6 separate regions of the Homo sapiens genome follow, and regions 2, 3, 4, 5 and 6 are each reported to be linked to region 1. The links are microRNA targets in miRTarBase. Many come from high-throughput screens and were not tested one by one. Region 1 holds a microRNA gene; each other region holds the end of a gene's coding sequence.
The links. Region 1 holds the annotated microRNA hsa-miR-34a-5p (UGGCAGUGUCUUAGCUGGUUGU, at 2,424-2,445, opposite strand). A microRNA usually pairs through its seed, bases 2 to 8, with sites in the 3' UTR of a target mRNA and lowers its output. Matches are read on the target gene's strand: a 7mer-m8 pairs with bases 2 to 8, a 7mer-A1 pairs with bases 2 to 7 and ends in A, and an 8mer does both.

Region 1 (3,664 bases):
CGCAATCTCAGCTCACTTCAATCTGTGCCTCCTGGGCTCAAGCCATCCCCTGACCTCAGCCTCCTGAGTAGCTGGGACTACAGTCCTGCCACTATGCCTGGCTAATTTTTGTATTTTTTGTAGAGATGTTGCCCAGGCTGGTCTGAAACTCCTGAGCTCAAGGGATCCATCCACCTGGGCCTCCCCAAGTGCTGGGATTACAGGCATGCGCCACCGTGCCCAACCCAGACATCACTTTTATCTGAAGCAACAACTATCTGCTCTTTCTGTTTCCTTACTAATTATCCAGGAACTTTTACAGGTGAACTCTGAGGAGGACAATTTTTATTGTTTTTATGTCAGCATAACTAAAAGTAAAGCTGGATAGGAAGAGGTTACTTGAAAATGATTTCACCTGAACTCAAATGAATAAGCTGGCTACTGCATAAAGCAACAGAGGGGTCCCTTTAATTTAAAAGCTCAGGACTCTGAATCAATTGCTGGTTGGGAGAAGGTAGAGACATTCTTTACTTCTGCCTAGAACTGGGGAAAATGGCGTAGACTTCTGCTCTGAAGCAGTCCTCAGTGCTGCTTCGGTCAGAACTCCCGAGAGGCATCTGAGTGCTGGCCTGTCACTGCGGCTGGCATTCCAGGCATTTCATTGGCCCCACTTCAGCCCACGCCTGGCTCCACGGGGCTGGGCAGCTGAGGGGAGTTTGTGGCAGAGTGGGCATGGGGCACGGCCCGTGCAATGTGCGTTACAAAGGGGCTCTCTCTGAAGCAAGTCCTCTGCACTCCAGTCTATTTGAGGAAGAAAAGGACAATTCCCATAGGGAGGGGGTTTGCTGAAGCAACCAGCTGCCTGGTTTCCTCTCCAGCATTGAGAGGGAGGGAGGGCTGGCTTAACTGGGGGACGGCCTTCTCATCTGGACTGTGTCAAGGCCAAGGTTAGGCTCCAAATTCCAGAAAACCTCTCTGCAGGGTCTTCTTTCAGAGTGGTGAGAATGGAAGCAGGCTCCCTTCCCCTCCAGCACTAGGAAGCCCCGCAATTGGTGAGGTGCAAAGAAAGATGGGCCCAGGCAGGGAGGCGGGAGCAGGGGAGGTGCCCAGGGCAGTGGCTGGAAGGGCAACGGGAGAAGCAGCAGAGGCTGGGGGTGGGGGTCGCAGCAGGTGCTGTCCCTGGCCTGTGTGAAAGGTACTAGAAGGCCCCATCCTTGGTGCCACATGGACCCCAGAGGCTTGTCTTAGTCCATGGGGTCCGAGGTGTAAGACACTTACGTTTGGCGTCACCTCTTAGGCTTGGATGAATTTCAGAAAGTGCTAGACTGGAGAACAGTGGAAAAAATCAGTGGAACAAGATCTGGAGCACTCACTGCTCAATGTCAATGTTAGAGAGCACAACGACACCAATGGGAGGAGGGTGAGGACCAGAGGCTGATTGCATGAGCTCTGTTGGAGTGCAGGACCCACTAACGGGTTATCTCAGGGTTCCTGGAGGCCACGGCTGTGCCTTGTGGTCCAAGACCTGGGGAAGCCACCACTGTGTCTTCCCTCTCCATCCTCCGGTGACTTTGGTCCAATTCCTGTTGCCATGGCAATCAGCCCAGCTGGCCTCACAGTTCACTGGCCTCAAAGTTGGCATCTGTAGGTGAAGCCAGTGGGACCCAGAGAACTTAATTCTTCTCAACTGAGCTGGCTTGGAGGAACTTTTCTCATCAGCCACTGGAGCAGAGAACGTCACCAGCGTCTCACTGACGTCAACATCCTGGGCCTGGCTCTAGCTGAAAAGGAAAATTCTCCCCAAGGCAGACACATCTCCCGAAGCCCACACAGGCACTTTCTATGATTGCACTGGAAATCTGTCTCCTGGGGACAGGGAGCGCGTACGCTCACAGTCAAGTCACAATGTTGAGCAGTCTCCAGGACTCCACGTTCATCTCTAAGAACAGGAGCCGGTGGTTGGGCGCAGATTCTTGAGCCAGATTGCTCGCGTTCAAAACCTGGTCCCTTTTTATTAATTGCATGCTTAGTTACATTTTCTGTTTGTACTTTTGTTTCCTTCTCTGCAAGACGGGGTTAATCACAGACACTTGTACATGATGTAATACACTTACAATACTTAGGACAGGCCTTCCTGCATAGTAAGTGCTCTGCAAACACTGGCTACTATTCTCCCTACGTGCAAACTTCTCCCAGCCAAAAGCCGCCCACACCAAGCCCCTGTGCCTTTTTCCTTCCGCACCCACGAGCAGGCTGCTCCTGGGGCCCTGGAGCTCACTTTCCCAGCCGCCCTCACCACCCACCGTGGCGCAGAAGAGCTTCCGAAGTCCTGGCGTCTCCCACTGGTCTGGGCATCTCTCGCTTCATCTTCCCTCTTGGGCCCCACAACGTGCAGCACTTCTAGGGCAGTATACTTGCTGATTGCTTCCTTACTATTGCTCACAACAACCAGCTAAGACACTGCCAAAGAAACACTCACAGCTGGCCGGTCCACGGCATCCGGAGGGGACTCGGGGGACAGGCCTGTCCTGCCTCTCCCCAGCACCTGTTGATAAGAAGGAAATGTGGGGAGGAAAGAAAGGATGCAGGAGGCCGAGGTGGGAGGATCGCTTCAGGCCAGGAGTTCAAGACCAGCCCAGGCAACTAGCAAGACTCCATCTCTACAAAAAAATTTTAAAAATTAGCCAGGCATGGTGACATGCGTGCCTGTAGTCCTAGCTACTGGAGAGGCCAGGGCAGGAGGATCGCTTGAGCCCAGGGGTTGAGGCTGCAGGGAGCTGTGATTGCGCCAGTCTGGGTGACAGGGTGAGACCCCGTCTCTAAAAATAAAAATTGGGTGATGGCTCACACCTGTAATCCCAGCAATTTTGGAGGCCAAGACAGGAGGATCACTTGAGGCGAGAAGTTCAAAACCAGCCTGGTTAACATAGCCAGACCACCACCTTCAGCAACTGTCTCTACAAAATGAAAATAAAAATAATGAAAGAGAGAGGATGGAGGAGAAGGCTGAGACCAGTAACAGATTCCAAAAGGACTAATTGACAAGGAGAAAAAGAGTCAGCACTTCCCTGGAAGAGAAAAAATTCGAAAAGGACAGTGGTTGAAAAGTCAGCATGTCTGCGTGAAAGGGAAGCAATGAAGTAGCGCCAACTCCTCCCCCGTCCCGGGCACCGTTTAGGGAGAGGATCAGAGTTCTGCCAGAGAATCAGAACCAGAAGGAGATATAGATTAAGTTTATTTCAAGGAATCGGCTTACGTGATTGTGGGGGCTGGCTAGGCAAGTCTGAAATCCAGAGGGCAGGCCAGCAGGCCGGAAGCTCCCCGGAGGAGCTGACACTGCAGTCCCCAGGCAGGATTTCTTCTTCTTCAGGGAAACCTCGGTTCTGCTCTTGAGGCCTTTCAACCGATTGCATGAGGCCCACCCACCTCGCAGAGGAGAACCTTTGACTTACAGCCAGTGATCATCAGTGCTGACCACATGTACAACGCACCTCACAGTAGCACCCAGGCAAGCGTTTGGTTGAATCATGGGTATCACAGCCTCGCTAAATTGACAAGGAAATTGCCCATCACAGGGTTTAAGATCTAGTGCTTTAAGATCTACTGACTTCTTGTTGTTTTGTTGTTGTTGTTTTTATAGAGATGGGTTCTTGCCATGTTGCCCAGGATGGTCTCAAACTCCTGG
Region 2 (3,664 bases), not on the chromosome of region 1:
CAACCTGCCTGGCCTGTATGTTGAAAATATTGATTCTGCATATAGCGGAGCACACCCTTTAAACCTATGGGAATTGAAAGTGGTAGTTCCCACCCTATATGGCTGGCACAGGCCTCCCTCAAACACCTAAGGTACAGCTGTGAACATTCCCCTTTTTCTTTTAGGGTAGGGAAGGTGGAGAGCACCCCATATCCAGCATAGAACGCAACAGACTGTCTTCCTCCGGTGATTTTTCTTTCCCCTTTACTTAACTTACCAGAGCTGGGAAAAAATGAGTTTCCCCAAATTAAATCAAAAGCACAAGAAAGGCCGGAGCGGCTGGTATTCTGAGGTCAGATGTAGGCTGCAGGGAGAGAACTTGATCAGGGCCAGTGCAGGGAGCCCGAGCACTGAGAACCCGGCCTGGGAGCGCAGGAAGGCGGGTGGTGAGCAATTCTACGGGTGTCCCGAGGGTATGAGGGGCGGTGCTGCTGGGAAGCCGAGCGGGGCATCCTGAGGTCAGGGCGCCAGAGGCTGCAGAACCCTGGAGGGTGTGGCTGCAGGGGACGCCCGGGCGGGACAAGGCAGGTAGGAGAAGAACCCAGAGGTGTGGGAAGAGGGTGTCTCCGAGTCAGGGCGCAGCACGGAAGTAACTCTGGGGTAGAAGGCGAGGGCGGGGCGGGGGAAATAAACTCCACAGAGACAATAACCTGCTGCTGCCCCCCAACACCGACTCAAAACAGCGAAACTCCTGGCCGCCGCCCTCCCCTGCAGCGCAGGCCCCAGTTACCCAACTCCTCCCCTGCGCTCCGGCGCAGAGCGGCGCAATCTGCCCGCCCCGCCCGCAGCCTCCCCTTCCAGGCCCCGGGAGCATTCCCACCCCGACACTCACACACCGGCAAACAGGAACACACAGTCAGGCTCCGGCCCGGAGTCCTCGGCCTCCCGGGAGGGGCACCCGACATCCCGCACGCCTGGTGCCGGAAGGGGAGAGCGTTTCCAATCTCCTGGACGACAGAACCAGAGAAAGCCGTGTCCCAGCCCTCTCTCCACAGTTCTATTTGATTTTACTACCTTCCTCTCTTTCCTTCTCATTCACTTTTCAATTGTCTTGCAACTTGTTTTCCAGGCAGTTTCTCTTTTTCTCTATCCTCCCCAAACTTCTTGTCCCTCCCCATCTCGTCGCTTGTTTTTTCTCTTCCTCTTCGCCCACTTTTTTTCTGCCTCTTCCCAAATTCCACGCTTTGGGCTTCGCGTCTGTCGCTCAACTTCCTTTTTCTGCACCCCGCGATCCATCCAAAATGTTCTTCCTGTCCCTGGGATTGGGCAGCCTCAGCCTGGCCCCTTTCAGTCGCGGGAGCCCCTGGCCTCTCCAACAGGAGAGAGAGAAGGTAGGGAGAAGTGGATGGGACCCCCGGCGCCCGGGAGCCGGGCAGAGAGCGCCCCGAAGCGCGCATTTCTCTTCGCCAGCGCCCGGGCTGCGCGGGCCCACGCGACATCTGTCGCCTGCGGTCCCGGCTCACACCCCGCGCACCCCCGCAGCTCCCTGGGCGCTGCCACCCCCCACGCTCCGGCTGCCGCCTTTCCCCGCGGGCGCAGACGCTCGGGCCTCGCCTTCAGGCGCCGCTCCAACTTCCCAGGGTGTCTGCGGCGCGCGGCGGGGCTCGGGGGCGGGGACCTAAGGGCGGCTGGCTATGTCACCTTCGAGCTTCACCTTCCGGCCCTAGACCCATCTATGGTGGGCTCAGCCTGATTCTCTCTCCCTCATTCTCTGCAGCGCTCCTCGCTACTCCAGGATCCAGAGTAGTAAGACGATGCTTACGCTGTGTGCTTCCTCAAAGCGCCTAGCACAGTGCCAGGCGCACAGCTAGGGCACAATGATCCCCCCACCCCAAGAGCCTAGTACCTTCCTCCCACTGATACCAACCACACTAGGTGCTCAGTACCCACTTCCTGTCCTAAGTTCTCAACACATGACCTCCCTAAACAGTGCCCAGCACCCCGAAGGAGCTCAATAAATGTTCCTTCCTTAAGGCTTCCCATTGGAGTTTCCCTGAAAGCCCCCTATTCCAGCCCACTCCGAGGGCGTCTCCTTCCCGTAGCAGCTACAACCGTCTGGGGAGAAGGAAGCCAAACTCCTTAAACAGGACACCTCACTCGAGAAGGAGCGAAGTTGGCAGGGCAGAGGAAAATTGCAAATGCGCGGAGCTTGGGAAGAAAGATTGGGCCAGCCAGAAACCTGGAGGGGGAGGAAGTCTCGAGATGCGCTTGGGGTGCCAGATAATGGGGATCAGAGATTGGAGAAGTGACACTTAGGGACAAGAGGTTGGGAGCAAAGGTGATGGAGACGGGGGCGACTCAGGAACGGCAAGAGGATTGGAACGGGACCGGGGACCTTTCTTGGAAGTGCGATAGATTTTAAGTATTTGGCGTGGCTTACAACTACATTCCCATAGCAAGCACACTTTTTACTTGCATTGTGTGTTTATTTGTGGGGCTGGTGGGGATTATGGAGGCTGAAGTCCTCCGCAAGCCACTGAGCTATAAGTGAGTAGCAAGATGCGCTTAAGGACTCGCAGAGATGGGGGCAGAAACGGTGGACCTTACACTTGGAAGGGAAGACTGGGGACTGGGTAGAAGAGGAGAGGTGGAGATGCTTGCAAGAGAAGAGAACGGAGGAAGAAGGAGAAGGGAAAAGAAGAAAGCCAAACTTGCCACTCTCCCGCTCCCGGGCCAGCCCAGCGTCTCCAGTGCCCAGCTGCCGCGCCCCGGCTCTCGCTCGCTCGCTCGCGTACCTGTTGCTCGCTCCGGCTGGGTCTCGGCTCCGGCCCCACCAAGAAGCCCCGCGTTCCTACAAGTTCCGCCTGCCGAGCAGCCAGGCCGCCAGCGCCGCCACCTGCGCGGCCGCGCACAGCCAAGGCCAGTAGGTGGGGAGCGCGCCGGGCGCCGGCGCCCTCCGGCTCCGCGCGCGGCGCCGCCACATGGTGCGCTGGTGCAGCTCGTCGCCTAGCGCCTTGAGCCGGGCGGCGGTGAGCTGCGCGGCGGACGAGCGCAGCCCCAGGCGACCCGCGCTGCAGGCGCACACGGCCGGGGGGCCGCGGCCGCGGTGCAGGGGGCACGGGCACATGACCGCTGGCCTCGCTCCCGCCCCGCGCTCGGGCCGCCCCTCGCCTCCTCTCCCTCCGGCCTCTGCGCCCGCTGCCGCCGCGCTCCAGCCGCCGGGGGCCTCCCCTGGACACCAAGTTTCTCCTTGTGTTGTGCGTTTGTTGTGCTGACGGCGCTATTATTAATTAAAGTGTCACATGGTGGAGGGGGGCGGGGAGGGGGGTTACATCATCCGGCCCCCGGGGGTTGGGGGGGGGGCTGCAGGCAGAAGAAACCGAGAGGTAACTTTTAACCCTAGCGGCGCCGGCAGCTAGGGAGCGCGAGGTTTGGGAGACGGGGAGCGCGGCGCGGGGCGGCGCGAGAAGGCTCCCCGCAGCGGAGGTCCTGGGCTTTGGGGGTCTCGGGGGACCCCCGCGGAGGCGCGGAGCGCGAGGGAAGGTTGTTCTCCTTCCCCTTTTCCTGAATTCAGCTCGAGTTCCGATTTGGCGAGGGAAAAAGGCTTGTTTGCCGTTTTGGATGAAGCTGATGCTGAATTCGGCTGCATTATTCAAAAATATTCCGAGGCTGTTGTTTTGTTTGG
Region 3 (3,664 bases), not on the chromosome of region 1:
GAGAGGGATGGATGCATAGATGCTTGGAGCCTCCATATGGGTGGACAAACCCTGGTGTCCAGGACTGACTTTCAATGGATTGCAGCGAGGGAGCTGTTCTGCTGCTTAGGAAACCCAGAGGCAGGTCTTACTAGCATCATTTTCCCCAGGAACCTGCATTTGGTGACGAGTGAGGGGCAGGTGTCTCTTTCTGGCAGTTCCCCTTTTCCCAGGAGGGACTCTACATCCAGATGGACCTAAGCGTAGGAGGAGGATGCTGTGCACGCAGGGTGCACCCCGCTGCCAGGTGAGGGGAATGTCTGGGACGAGATATCCAAGGTCAGTCAAGCCTCCTATGCACCGCTGTATCTTCTGCCTGCCTTAAGGTCATCCCGATGGTAGCTTTGCCTCATTCGTTACTCAGACAAGCAGACACCAAAAGCCTGAGCCTGCAGTTCCTTTGTTAGGGAGCAGGATTGCCATGGCAACAGTACATCTCCTGTAGGAGTCTAAATGTTACAGTGGTCCAAACCCAGCTCAAATGTTCCCTGTCACAGGGACTGGGAGCAAGAGTTGATTCCCTGAATGGATTTCAAAAAGCCAGCTCTTGGGTTCTTGAGAAAACAGCTCTGGGGGGTCACTTTGCATCTCAAAGGGCAAAGGATGTGTAATTGCAACCTTTTTAAAGTAACTATTCTAAGCGAGAGTCCAGGGGCCTATCTGCCTATCACCTGGTTTGGTCTGGAATAAATTTTGGTAGCATGGAGCTTTCTCAGGCAGGCATTTTAAGCGGGACTGGGGTCATGGCCTTAAGCTGCTGGTAGCCAAGCTAGAGTTTGGTCAGGTCTCTTAGTGCAGCGATTTGGATGGAGCCATTATGTGCTGAGAGGTCTGCAGTTTTCTCCCAGCTCCTTCTTTTTCTGCAAATTCAGTCTGAGTTTCCATTTTATTCTGTGGCCCTTTCCCTGCAGCCTCTTCACAGAGAAGTGGCACCACTGAATTTTAAAAAAGATGGTTAATCCTCTTTTAGCTAGTACCTACATTTTGGGGTATTAGAAAGTCTTGTTGTGATGTGCACTGCTCCTGAAACACTGAGCTGAGGAAGCTGTTCGTGATGGTTAATATTAGGTGTCAACTTGATTGCATTGAAGGATGCCTAGATAGCTGGTATTGTTTCTGGGTGTGTCTGTGAGGCTTTTGCCAGAGGAGATTAACATTTGAGTCAATGGATCGGGAGAGAAAGACCCACCCTCAAGCTGGGTAGACACCAGCGAGGGTAGAACAAAGTAGGCGGAAGGTGGGATAAGCTGACTTGCTGAGTCTTCTGGCTTTCATCTTTCTCCCGTGCTGGATGCTTCCTGCCTTTGGACATCAGACTCCAGGTTCTTTGGCCTTTGGACTCTTGGACTTACACCAGTGGTTGGTCATGGGCTCTCGGGCCTTTGGCCACAGACTGAAGGATGCACTGTTGGCCTCCCTGCTTTTGAGGCTTTTGGACTTGGACTGAGCCACTGTGGGCTTCCTTCTTCCTTGGCTCGCAGACGGCCTGCTGTGGAGCTTCACCTTCTGATCATGTCAGCTAATTCTCCTTAACAAACTCCCTTTCATATATACATCTATCCAATAGTTCGGTCCCTCTGAAGAACCCTAATAGTGTTAGAAAACCTAAAGGTGAGAGTGTTTAATTTGGGAGCTTTTAGGTGGCAGCACATCCCATCACTAAAAAAAGGATAGCTTATATATTTGTAATAAACTCATATTACACTAATAAACACTGCAAAACAAGCTAGTTGATATTTTTGAGATCAGATGTCTCTTATTTAAACCATCTTATTGATTTTAATATAGCTATAAAAAGGATCTTTATTTAGAAAAGATTTCTAAGACCTTTTATGCAGAGTAACTGCAAAACTTCTTAGCTCTTTCATTCTTAAATACTCCCTTGAAACAAATTTTATTGATGTTTGTCTTCTGTATAATTTCATGAAGAGCAAAAGGAAAATAAAATTAGCCTAATTAAAAAAAAAAATTAGCCTAATAGCTAATGTTGGCCAGCACTAACTACACTCAAGGCCCTCTCCCAAGCATTTCACGTGGAGCAACATTTCATCCTCCCAATAACCAGCAAGGGGAGGACCACTCAGCTCCGTTTTCAGACAAAGAGCTTGAGGCACACAGAAGTTACCTTGTCCACGGTCACATAGCAAGTAAGGGCAGGGCAAAGCCAGGATGCAAAGCCACACAAGGCCACCTGGCTCCAAAGCCCCTGGGTAGAAACCACTGGGCCACCCTGGCACAGCAGCAGGGACTTCCTGGAGCCAGACAGCAATGGGGAGGCTGCTCTGCCACACCTTGCCTCTCACCTCCACTTCCTGTCCTGGGCTTTTCAGCAGCCCTGAGCACCTCTCCTTCAGGGGACCATCAGTGGGAGAGGTCAGGCTCAAATTCATTTTTACATAAATGTTTTTGGTGTTAAAACTTCCCGAATGAGGCCAGGTATGGTGGCTCATGCCTGTTATACCAACACTTTGGGAGGCTGAGGTGGGATTGCTGGAGGCCAGATGTTTGAGACCCACCTGAGTAACATAGTGAGACCCTGTCTCTACATAAAATTAAAAAAAAATAGCTGAGCATGGTGGTGTATACTTGTAGTCCCAGCTACTTGGGAGGTTGGAGGCAGGAGGATTGCTTGAGGCCAGGAGTTTGAGGCTGCAGTGAGTTATGATCGTGCCACTGCACTCTAACCTGGGTGTAGAGTGAGACCTTGTTTCTAAAAAAGAGATCACCTGAATGAAAACGTCTAATATTATGTTGATATGCAATACCGACCAAAGCCTAACTATGGAAAATAAAATCTTAAGGTCATGGAAGACATATGTCTTTTAAGTAAGTATCTATATTAGTAAAATTCATTACTCAATTCAATTATGCTGGATTTTCCCCCTTGCTATATGCTTAGAAAAGAAGAAAAATGCACCCCTGTTCAAAAACTCATAAGAATTAAATTTTTAAAAACTTCAAATTTTAGGATGATTTTTATTTACAAAACAGATTGGTACTTTTGTTTTACAAAAATTACAAAAAATGACTCTTAAAAATAGAAATAGCTTCTCAGACTCTTGGGAACTACTTTTAAGCAACCAAGGAGTTAGAACTCAGATGGTTTTCTTCTTTGTAACAGCAACAATGACCACGGCTCTGTGCCATGGCAATCACTGCTGAGTGTCTTCTCCTACAATTACACAGGCCCGAGCTGTGTCTGGTGGAAAGGTCTCCACTCAGGTCAGAGTCTGAAGGAGCAAGATCTTCTCATTAATGCAGAACCTGTGCAGAACCACCATCAGATTCTCTCCACAGCGGGAGACCTGGCGCTCCATGGCCAGGCGAAAGTCCTCCTTCACGCCTTTGGTGATGCCTCGAGTTACAGTGTGGTGCCTGAGGTCAGCAATAGGGAAACAGACAAAGACCAGGGGTTAGCACCAGCATCGCTGATCGCTGCTACTTGGGTAGGAATAAAGCCTGCCCCATATCTAAGTATAATTTCAGATATTTTAAAAAGAACACAAGAATAGCTGCAACCAACCAAACATTCCAGCCCATTTCTCTTCAGAAAGACTTAAAACTAGACAGACATCTTTCTCACTCTATAAAAGGTTACTTCAAACATTTAATTGTTCAGTAAAAT
Region 4 (3,664 bases), not on the chromosome of region 1:
CCTTTAATTTGCAGAGATTTGGCCACAGTTAAACCCCTTCCCTCTCAACTACTCGAAAGGCAGCATTTAGCAAGTAGCCTCTCTGTTGTGCCATTACTTCCCCTCGTTACTGGATCATTCCACTTCCATCCGTATAATCCCATAACATTTCCTATTTTAAAAATATAATAAAACTCCTCCTGGTCCCTTATTTGCTGCCAATGTCTATCCCATTTGTCTGTTTTCCTCTGCAGCAAAGCTCTTCAAGAATTCTCTATACTTACTGTTTCCAATTCCTCTCCCACTCTCAATCCAACTCTCATTTCCAAGACTCCACCAAAACTCTTGAAAAAGTCACCAGTGATAGCTCTTTTGCCAAATCCAAATGATTCTCAGCCCTATTACTCAACTCACAGATCATCATTCCCTCCTTAAAATACTGTTTTCATTTGGCTCCTGGGACACTGCTCCCATGTTTTTCCCCTACTTTACTGATCTCTCTGCTTCAGTCTCATTTGCTTGTCCCCCCTCATTTTCCTAACCACTAAAGTTACAGTAACACAGGGCTCAGTCCTTGGACTGTTGTTCTTCTTTACTTAGATGTCTATTAAGGCATCTCATATAAATCTCTGATTTTTTTCTCCTAAACTTCCTACAATCCTCCCCAAATCTTCCCCCCATGATCTTCCCCATATAGGAAATGGCAACTTCTTTCTTCTGCTTTCTCAGGCCACTGACAGTGGGATTATCCCTGACTCCCTACTTTCTCTCTCATGCCATCCATCAGTTAGTGGCTCTGTTTTCTAGGTTCAGAATCTAACCACTTCTTGCCTCCTCCATCATTTTAACATTCTGGTCCCAGCTACCACCTCTCAACTGGGTTATTACTATTGCCTCCGAATTGGTCTCCTTGTTTCCAGCCTTGCTCCTACAGACTCTTCTCCACACAGCATCCAGAGTGATCCCTTTAAAAAAGTAGGTCAGATCACATCAATCTGGTGAAAAAGTTTCACAGGCTGCTTGTGATAGGCTGTTTGCAAAAAGGCCACCATAATGCCCCTCTTTGTGTCCACACTCTTATGCAGACCCCACATATGCTGATTCTGGGCTTGGCTATGACATTTGCTGTGGCCAAGGGGAAAGTACAAACATGAAGCAAGCAGAGGCTTAGAAAGTCAGGGCTTGTCCTATGCTGCTGCTGGGATGCTTCCACCACTATGTGAACAAATTCATACCAGCCTCCTGGAGAATGCATGAAAACATGGAGAGAAGCCCCAACCATTCCAGCTGTCCCAGCTGAGTAAAGCCAAACTAGACACTCTAGCTGCAGATGAGCTGGTCTAGGCCAGAATAATAATATGGCCAACCCACAGAATCTTGAAAAACAATACATGTTTGTTGTTTTAAGCCACTAAATTTTGGGGTGATTTGTTATCCAGCAAAAGCTAACTGATACATTGCCCATTTTGCTCAGAATAAAAGCCAGTGTCCTAACATACCCTGCAAGGCCCCATATGATCTGGCCACCCTCATTCTGTGCCACTTCACTTATAGCCTCCCTGTTATTCCTCATATTCAGTACTGTCCTACCTCAGGGCCTTGGTACTTTCTGTCCCCTTTGCCTGGAATGTTTGTTCCTCAGATACCTGCATTGCTTACTCCCTTACCTCTGCTCAATTGACACCTTATTGGGGAGAACTTTCCTTATCACCCTAAGAAAATACCCCTGGCACTCCCTATCCATCCCCGTTATCCTGCTTTTTCTTTTTAGTTCTTCTTATCTGAAAAATACATATTTCTTGTCTGTCACAAACACATGAGACACCAGAACTTATGCTCTGCAAGGGCAGAAATCTTGTGTCTTGTTCATCACTGTATCCCCAGCACTTATAACAGTGCCTGGAATTTTTTATCACCAGTAAAATGATGAAAGTAGTAATACTTCTGCCAAATTTGGTGTCTAGGTCTATTACCTGGAATGTTTCTAGAGGCTGAGGTGGGAAAAGTGGTGACTGTGCTCCATATTGGGGCATGTTACACTTAATGCTGGCTGAATTCCTAGAGAACTGATGACCTAAAAAACATTCAAACGAATACTCAATAAGGATTCAGGTAAAGCAGCAAAACACTAGCTTGCCACTGGCCAACTCAGAGCTTTGTTCCTTTTGACCTCCCCTCCTTTCTCTTTATTCCCATCCTTTCCCCATTAGTGTGAACATCAGTTTGTCAGAACATTAGTTCACCAAATGATGGGGAAGAAACAAAAACACCAAGAAAGTATTACCAGTATAGAAATTTATTTGAATTCAAAATAATATGGCTATATTTATAATAATATAATAATTATCTAAAGCAAATATCATCATTGGCTCTGAAATGCATCTAAAGATGTCATTCTTAAGTCAAAAAATACGTAGTAAGAATGAACAAGAAAGAAAAAAATATAAAAACAAGTCTGCTGAGTGTCGGGAGTTGGTGAGGGATATCCTACCATATTGTGACGGAGTCCAAATAGAAAACATGCAGCAACAGTTCTCCTGCTTTATCAGCTCCCTGGAAAATAAACCAGTAACCCTGGTAGTGCAGTAACCATTTGGTTAACAGGACAAACTTCCTGATGGACACAGATAGTAATTCACTGCATTTCCCTTCTCTAACTTCTCTCTTCACACCAATTCCTTTTCTTTCCTTTAAGATGGGTTTCATCCTGTTGACAAAAGATTTGGTTTTATTTGTAAAGTAAAGCAGATAATATCCTGATTGAAGTATTCAATGATTTAGTTGAGGATGCTTGGGGATCAAACTTTGTAAAAAGGTCAATTAAGCTAGTTAGCAGAGACTATCAGTGGCTTGCAGAAAAAAAATTCGGATAATATGTTTGTTAAAAAGACAAAAAGAATAAGCGGTGAAAAATCCTAGGGATTACTGTGACCTAGACAATCAAAAGCAGATAGGTGACCTTTGATTAAATCCATTTACTTGTGGAGTGAGCTAAAAGGAGGCTCCAAGACAGAGTTTGGTTCCCAACAGTGTCCGTGGCCAAAGGGCACACTCAGAAGGTCTCCTCCTCTCGTAGGAACTGGAACACGGATGAGAAGTCTTTCTTTGAGTAGCCCTTTGCACACATCATCCTGTAGATCTGATGGGCCAGACTGCCAAGAAGGATTGGGCTCTTTGTGCTGGTAGCAGAGTCTTGTGCCAATCCCAGATCCTAAATCAAACAGGAGGAGAGAACACGCTGAGACTGGTGGTAAAGGCTCTTTGGAACTGTGGTTCCTTATGTTTTGGTTTGAAAGAAGGAAAAATGTAATCTGAAAAAATAAGATACTTATAAATACTATGGTAAGTTAACATTTTTAAATAAGCGCTTTCATATAACTGCAAAATTGCTCCAGACAGAAACCTTGATTTCTGAGTGTCTCTTCGATTTTTCCACCTTCCACAATACCTGTTTGTTTTGTTCCACAGATTTGAAGAAAAAAAATTTCCCTGTGTAATCTTATCTGTGGAAATCTTTAAGACATAAATTTTTTTTAAAAAATTCTTAAATGAAAACAAGGAGAAATAAAACTGCAAAACAGGAAATACAGTTGCAAATATTACTTCATCCAATAAATATTTGAAGTGTGCTGACAATGTGCCAGAAGCTGGGATAAAATGATGAGCAAAACAGCCACAGCCCACC
Region 5 (3,664 bases), not on the chromosome of region 1:
TTTTCCCCACTGAGTCTTCAGCCTTGTATGTTTCTCTCCCGTTTGAATTTGTCCTCTTTTGACTACTCATAGGCTGGTTGCATGTACATTCATGGAGGAGTGGTGAACATCCATGAAAACAAACGGACTGGGTCATTGTTTAAGATCTGGCTGGTGGTACCTAGCCTGCTGGAACTGGCATGGGAGAAGCTGCTTGCGGCCTTCCCTAACCTTGCAAACCTCTCCCGAACACAACTTCTGCACCTTGGACTCACACAGGGACTCATCGAACGCTTGAAATGAGGATTTCTGGACTGTTCATTGATACTGGAAATGTTAATTTAAAGAGACTCCTTTATTTATGGGCAGTGTAGAATGTGCTACAAAGAGGATTGGTTACCCTGATCAAGGCCTTATTTAGAAAATACATCAGATGCCTTTCTGTAAATTGGTTTTTCAGTTTATGGACATCTCACTTTCCCACGTGCTTCCTTCTTTGCTTCTGTTCCTCCTGACCCATTACATGCACATGTACTCACATACTCCCTCTTCCTTCTCGATGGAGTTAAGGGAAAGCCTGAAAGTACCTTAATAATGTTATTAATCAAGACAGATTCCTTTTTAAAGGAATTCTGAATAGTTCCATGTCATACAATATTCTAGAAATTAAAACATCATCAACATAAAGAAAAATGAAATTAAAAAATTTTTACATCTAGCAACAGCAACAACCACAAATTTAGGGGAAGCTGAGAAGGCTAACCTTGGGAATCTTGCAGGTTATACTTAAACCTAGATGTTTAACTTAGTGTTTTCAAGATGTGTCTAACTGAGTAGTAGCTGGGTCTGATGGCAGCAGTGCTTGCCATCTTGTTGCACAGATAACTCAAACCTACCCTTTGGCTTTGAAGGAAGGTTAAGCAGCCCAGCAACTCTTGGTTAGTGATTTCTTTCTCATCCTCATGGTGCCAGCAGTGGTTAGAGTTGGTTTGTCAAAAGACTTACGTGTGTGTCGTGGTCGTGCTCTTTGTTGTTGCTCTTAGAAATTATGGCACCAAGAATGTTTCAAACGGAAAAACTTGTGGTGGCCAAAGTTCTTCATTCTGGCAGTTTTGAAACTCTCTTATGCTTATTAATGGTTTTAAATATCTCTTTGACTTCTTCATGGGGAATTGTAGACCCTAAGTATGTGGTGTAAATGCCATGTAACATGAACACAAGCTCCCGAGGGAGGCCAGAGAAGAGCCAGGCAGAGAAAACCTGCATCCTCTGGGCTTGTTAACTTGGCTTCCACTCGGGCTGTGGTCTTTGGCTATCATCTTGGCCATTTCCTTTTGAGAACTTGTTTCTTTTCTAATCTCTGGGCCAGGTACCTGCCATTTTCTCAGGCAGTTGGTCCTTGATTTTTCCCTTAGCTTGTTGCCTTCTTTTCCGTCTGCTTTAATGTGCATGGTGCTGTGAATAATTGTCTAGTAATTGGATACAAGGTCTTGGGGGTAAAGCCACAGGTCATCCTTCCTGAAGAACCAAGTATCATTTAAAAACTAGCATGAGGAAGGAATGAAACTGAGTAGCATTCATTTTGTGTGTGTGAAATTTTAGTTCTGGTTTGTTTGATTTGTTTTTTTTTTAATTCTAAAAAGAATGACATAAATTTTCACTCGCTTTGCCATCTGGCTGCTAGGGGAGCTGAGCAAGAGGCTCACCATGCGCATGTGTAAGCCGCAGGTGTACTCAAGGTGCTGAAGGCGTGCAAGGGGCAGCGCTGGTCCTCCCGGGGCCAACTCACAGCAGGAGACTCGCATGGGAGAGTTGGAACACATCTTTCCTTTAAGTGCCTCTTTTTTCACCTAGCTTTTAAAGTTATTCTTTGTCCTTCATCTCAGAAGGGATCTCTTTAGCTTATGTGTGGATTTAAAATGACCTTTGAGCTACGGTTAAAAAGCTACCATCTGGTGTTCAGTTCTGGGAAAGAGAAAACCGTAGCCTCCAGACATGCTCCTGATTTCTAGGCCTTATCATACCATCCCCTCTGTGATGGGTTGAGTTCATGGAGCCTGTATTCTGGGAAGTCTTATAATAACCACGCACCTGTGAACGTGGGTCCTTTCTGGGGAGTGAGGAATGTGGGAGAGAGGCAGAAAAAGGAGCAGCTCCTCTAGGGGCCCATCCTCCCACATCTTGCCATTACCAGTCTGTGTAGCACTTAACCTCCTGCCACCACTGCCAGGCTTGCTCCTCCGTTCTCTCCCAGAGCAAGTCAGTCTGAGCAGCTCCATTAGTCCAAAACAGAGCTTTGCTGCATGACTTCAGCCTGGCCTCTGGATATTTGGTGGAAATATATTCTAAATTGAACAAGCCAGGCTGTCCAGGGTGGCAAGAGGATTTTTGACCTGGATTTATACAGGGACCAAAGACTGAATGCTCAGCCTCTGTGCTTAGACTTTCATGGTCCTTAGGATAGAAGTGAGTCTCTAGCCCTGCTACACCAGAGAGCTGAAGAGAGATGTGGTCTGGTTCCATCCATACTTGCTGGCATCCTTTGTTAAGCCTTCTGAGGGCAGTCTTCTTTGAGGTAGACCTTGGAGGCCTGACATCGAAGACCTGTGTGTTTTATTTTCATAAAAGTATATATCCTTGGTCTAAAGTGTCTTCTTTTAATATAACACTAGTAAAAATGACATGGTATGACCAGCACTGAGTGCTATAGAACCACACATGTGTACATGTTCTGGATGCCAAATGAGACTGTGTGTAAATGACTAAGTGTAGATAACTAGAAATTAGATAGGGGTCATCAGGCGTTTCGGTATACCTATAACCAGCACTCGGAATTCCTGACACTGTTTACTTGATTTAGGAAAGTTTATGCCTGCTGCTTCTCTGCCTCTTTGAGGTACTCCCAGCCGTCTTACTACAGTCCTGTAAATTTAAGTGCAATATATAGAAACATATGGATATATACAGATTATATATAGGGTGTAACTATAAAGCAGGTAGACTACTTTTTTGCATCTTGGGGAAGTGAGCTCATTACTTTAGGTTCAAATTATGCCAAGAATTTTAGATGTGATCAGCTGGCTTAAGCCAACTCATGTCATGATAAAGCTGGATTTTCAAGTCCATGTTTTCTTACTCCAACTCTTAGAGACTCATTGTTCCTTAGGTTTGTTAGAGTTGAGATTTTTTTTCTCCCTGTCATCTTTGTACTCTCTCATGTTTGCATGTCTTACATTTTGTTGCCGGAGAACAAGGAAGTCCATCTGTAAGGAGTTTCCTAAACGGAGAATTAAAACCTAGTATTTAACACTAACCATTCTCCTATGTATATACTAATTTATCTGGGAATGTAATACTTTATTAAATGAAGAAAATGATGCTTTCTTCATTTAATATTTTCCACATCCTGGAAAAACTATAAACTGACACAGAATAGGTTGAAATCTTAACTGGGGCTAAACAAAACCCTTTCCATTGGCAGAATCTCCTTTTTTCAGGGCCATAATGACATGATGTAAAAATTTGCTTTAAACCATTCATGCCCTTAAATAGCTAGATTTTAAAGCATAATAAGCATATTAACATTTTTAAGCAAAAGATACGTTAACAGTGACCTTTGGTTATCCACAGTAGCAAGAGTAAAGCACAGATCATTGAAATCCATAGATAATCAGTGAATCAACTT
Region 6 (3,664 bases), not on the chromosome of region 1:
GCTCAGAGCACCAGTGCTAACCCCGGGGCAGAGAGGCCAGCCTGCCTTGAGTCATGTTGTTAGATAAACTCAAGGGGTTCACCAAGAGTCACCTCATTAGCATAATCTCTCAAACGAGGGCTGAGGGGCCCCCATGAATAGCAGACACTCCAGTCACTTGGGAAATTCCAAGGGTTTAGAGTTGGCTCCTAGGCACTGGGGACAAAGGCAGGCTGCTACACAGTTGGAGTGGCGCACGTGAGGTGGAGGGAAGCTGCTTTTGTAGCTCCCCTAGGGACTGTGGGAGGAGTTGTTAAAATCCGATCTAAAGCATATCGGAATGAGTGAGCTTCCTTGATTACATCGCCAGTCGAACATGGGGACGGCAGAGGAGTGAGAATGTGCCGGGGAGGAGATCCCTCGGCCCAGAGCTCCCCACCATGGGTTAGGAACAGTAAGTCCTGGGGCTCTGCATCCTCCTGCCCTCCTGGCTGTGGGTGAGGGCACGGTGTTTCCTGATCTCTCCTGCTGTGTCTCCAGGTCTACGAAGATCTACACTCCAGGCCGGAAAGAGCAAGGGGAGCCCATGACCCCTCGCCGCACGCCAGCCCGCTTTGGTCTGTGAGCTGAGGCTGTCCCCAGAGAGGATGGCAGCAGGTATTGGGTCCTCAGCCTTCTGGCGGGAGCCCTGAGGCTGCGGACAAAGCCCTTTCATCTGAGGACTTTCATCTGTGCATATCACGGCCCCCCAGGGCAGTTCCTGCTGGACCAGACTCTCTGGCAGAGGAGGTGGAGTTCTTCCATGCAGGAGCACGGCATGGCGGGAGCGGGGCTGCAGAGTATCCGAGGTGCTGCCGGGGCAGCGGGAGGTGGCTGGACCCATCGCATCTAAAACTGGCCCAGGACACTTGGTGTATGCGTGACTTGGCTGTGGCTGTCTTTTTTAATCCTTGTGTAAAGCAGCAAAAAAGACCTAAAGGGAATTGTAATTTGGTTATAATTCAGGATTTGGAAATAAATTTATTATTTGTAAAACATGACTGCATGTCTGACTTTTTCCTTCACCCTCTTAAATCATGTAATAAAGGTGGGGGGTGCAGAAGCCTGCCCTGACTTCCTTTGCATGGGTCGTCCTGGAACTCTGCCCTTATTTCTGCACAAGGCAGACCAAGCTCTGAGGGTGCCCAGCTGCTCCTGAGGCTGGGGGGCACTGGCAGGTCTGCCTTGATGGCCAGGTCATGGGAGGGAAGTGCGCAGGAGTCCACCCCAGCCTTCCCTGGGGTGGTTTGGCTGCTTGAAAGAGGTCCATGTGATTGCTCTGGATGGCAGAGGGTAAGGGTTGTCCATTGACTGAAAAACAGTGTAAAATGTTGCTTATTGATTTTCACGTAAAAGGTGACCCTTACACCAGAATCACCAGTCTTTTCTCTTTTTAAGCAGTCTCTTAAGTCTGCTGAGGTGGCTTTTTGGGTGTTTGGCCCTTTCCACTAACCATGGTGTATATGTTGTGATTCCTCCAGGCTGGGCTTCTGCCAGGTGTGCTGGTTGGCAGGTTCTGTGTTGGGGTTGAGTCACAGACAGGATTGGGGCTCGGAAGCACCTTGATACCAGGCCAGTGCCGGCGTGAGCCCTGTGGTGCGTGGCCTGCTGTGCTGTTCTGATCCCTTTCTCCCTCTGTTCCTGGGATTTGCCTTTCCATGTTTTATAACTCAATAAATGTTAAAATGTAAGTCAATTTTGTGGGTGAGCTCAGAAGCCTAGCTTTGCCAGCCAGCACCAGCTACCACCTCTGCCTCCATTCTTCCCTCTAGCCCCCTTGGGGGAATGCAGGTGGAAATGGGCTTCTCAGGGCTCTGTAGTGAAGAGAGGGCTGCCAGCACTTTGCCTAGGAAGCATTCTAATCTTGGCCCTAGGTTGGAGGACTAGAAGTTGGCTGATGTGTGACCTATTTACAGAATCAGGCAATGGAGTAGGAAAAAGATTGAGGTTCTACTTAACAGTTATTATTAATAAGCTGTGACCTTGGTCACAAACTCACTAAGTCCCTTAGATAAAAAAATAAGGTCAGAGAGGCTATTAAAACAATGGGTCCAACTCAACCATCGTATTTACAAGCAAGGAACACCTGGTAAAGGATACTTGGTACATGTGGGTGCTACAAGAGGAATGGAGGGGTCCCCTGCCCACAGCAGCTCCCCCTGAATTTGCCACGGTACTGGAGCTTCTGCTCAAGGCTCTGTCTCTTCCTGTGTTTCCAGTGTTTTTTTAAATTACAGATCCTTTCCATTCCGATCTTCCTTAAAGTTCCTTCGAGCTTTAATATTCTGATTCTCACTGTCTTTTCTTCAGATGGCAACTGATTGTTTTTCTAGAGGTACAAAAGCATACCTATGACATGGTCTCTAGCACCATGGCCCCGTTGTGGACTCCTGAGTCTGGCTGACCCTTGTTATTGTCTGTATTTTTTTAGTGTAACCATCCTAATGGCTGGTATCTCATTGCAGTTTTGATTTGCATTTCCCTAGTATTTAGTGGTGTTGAGCATCTTTTCATGTGCTTATTATTGGTCATTTGTTTATCTTCTTTGGAGAAATGTCTCAAGTCCTCTTCCCCCCCGCTTTTTTTTTTTTGCATTAGTAACTTTTTAAAAATTTTTAAATTTCAACTTTTATTTTAGATACTGAGGGTACATGTGCAGGTTCATTATATGGGTATACTGTGTGATGTGGTAGGTTTGGGGTATGGATCCCATCACCGAGGTAGTAAGCATAGTACCCAACAGGTATGTTTTCAACCCATTTCCCTCTCTCTATTCCTCCCAACCAAGTAGTCCACAGTGTTTATTGTTCCTATATTTATGTCCCTGTGTGCTCAATGTTTAGCTCCCACTTATAAGTGAGAAGAAGTAGTATTTGATTTTCTGTTCCTGCAAGAATTAGCTTAGGATTATGGCCTCCAGCTGCATCCATGTTGTTGCAAGGGACATGATTTCATTCTTTTCTATAGCTGTGTAGTACCCCATGGTGTGTATGTACATTTCCTTTATCCAGTCCACCATTGCTGGGCACCTAGGTTGATTCCATGTCTTTGCTATTGTGAATAGTGCAGCGATGAACATGCGAGTGCATGTGTCTTTTTGGTAGAATGATTTATTTTCCTTTGGGTATACGCCCACTCATGGGATTGCTGGGTCAAATGGTAGGTCGATTTTAAGTTCTTTGAGAAACCTTCAAACCTTTGTTCACAGTGGCTGGACTAATTTACATTCTCACCAGCAGTATATAAGTGTCGCCTTTTCTCACCAGCCTTGCCGGCATCTGTTATTTTTTGACTTTTTAGTAATAACCATTCTGACTGGTGTGAGATAGTATTTCATTGTGGTTTTGATTTGCATTTCTCTGGTGATTAGTGATCATGAGCATTTTTTCATATGTTTGTTGGCTGCTTGTATGTCTTCTTTTGAGAAGTGTCTGTTCATGTCCTTTGCCCATTTTTTTAATGGGGTTATTTGTTTTTTGCTTGATTTGTTTAAGTTCCTTATAGATTCTAGATATTAGGCCTTTGTCAGCTGTGTAGTTTGTGACTGTTTTCTCCCACTCTGTAGGTTGTTTATTCTGCTGATAGTTTCTTTTGCTGTGTAGAAGCGCTTTAGTTTATTAGGTCCCTCCTAGCAATTTTTGTTTTC

Region 2: the mRNA of HRK is a reported target of hsa-miR-34a-5p. The part of its 3' UTR that is shown has no 7-base or 8-base seed match.
Region 3: the mRNA of INTS10 is a reported target of hsa-miR-34a-5p. The part of its 3' UTR that is shown has no 7-base or 8-base seed match.
Region 4: the mRNA of HIBADH is a reported target of hsa-miR-34a-5p. The part of its 3' UTR that is shown has no 7-base or 8-base seed match.
Region 5: miRTarBase lists KLHDC10 as a target of hsa-miR-34a-5p. Seed matches in the 3' UTR shown: 8mer at 2,201-2,208.
Region 6: the mRNA of DHX38 is a reported target of hsa-miR-34a-5p. The part of its 3' UTR that is shown has no 7-base or 8-base seed match.

Annotation. Positions count from the first base shown.
Region 1 is chr1:9,149,312-9,152,975 of GRCh38, forward strand. MIR34A (microRNA 34a) reads right to left here and starts at 2,466; the gene lies at 2,357-2,466. MIR34AHG (MIR34A host gene) reads right to left here. Exons shown (of 2, transcript NR_132742.1): 2 at 1-2,524. RefSeq lists a silencer at 2,275-2,511.
Region 2 is chr12:116,878,202-116,881,865 of GRCh38, forward strand. HRK (harakiri, BCL2 interacting protein) reads right to left here and starts at 3,240. Exons shown (of 2, transcript NM_003806.4): 1 at 2,775-3,240. The coding sequence starts at 3,106. The coding sequence ends at 2,831. RefSeq lists silencers at 1,769-1,969, 2,848-2,927 and an enhancer at 3,433-3,664.
Region 3 is chr8:19,851,399-19,855,062 of GRCh38, reverse strand. It overlaps INTS10 (integrator complex subunit 10), which reads right to left. Exons shown (of 17, transcript NM_018142.4): 17 at 2,996-3,414. The coding sequence ends at 3,258. It overlaps LOC124901901 (a long non-coding RNA gene), which reads right to left and starts at 1,166. Exons shown (of 2, transcript XR_007060843.1): 1 at 1-1,166.
Region 4 is chr7:27,523,183-27,526,846 of GRCh38, forward strand. It overlaps HIBADH (3-hydroxyisobutyrate dehydrogenase), which reads right to left. Exons shown (of 8, transcript NM_152740.4): 8 at 2,260-3,190. The coding sequence ends at 3,032. Among named protein-coding and RNA genes, the nearest start is that of TSL, 91 kb to the right of the region's middle.
Region 5 is chr7:130,130,465-130,134,128 of GRCh38, forward strand. It overlaps KLHDC10 (kelch domain containing 10), which reads left to right. Exons shown (of 10, transcript NM_014997.4): 10 at 73-3,664. The coding sequence ends at 282. Among named protein-coding and RNA genes, the nearest start is that of LINC03008, 9.4 kb to the right of the region's middle.
Region 6 is chr16:72,111,894-72,115,557 of GRCh38, forward strand. It overlaps DHX38 (DEAH-box helicase 38), which reads left to right. Exons shown (of 27, transcript NM_014003.4): 27 at 520-1,019. The coding sequence ends at 604. Among named protein-coding and RNA genes, the nearest start is that of DHX38, 20 kb to the left of the region's middle.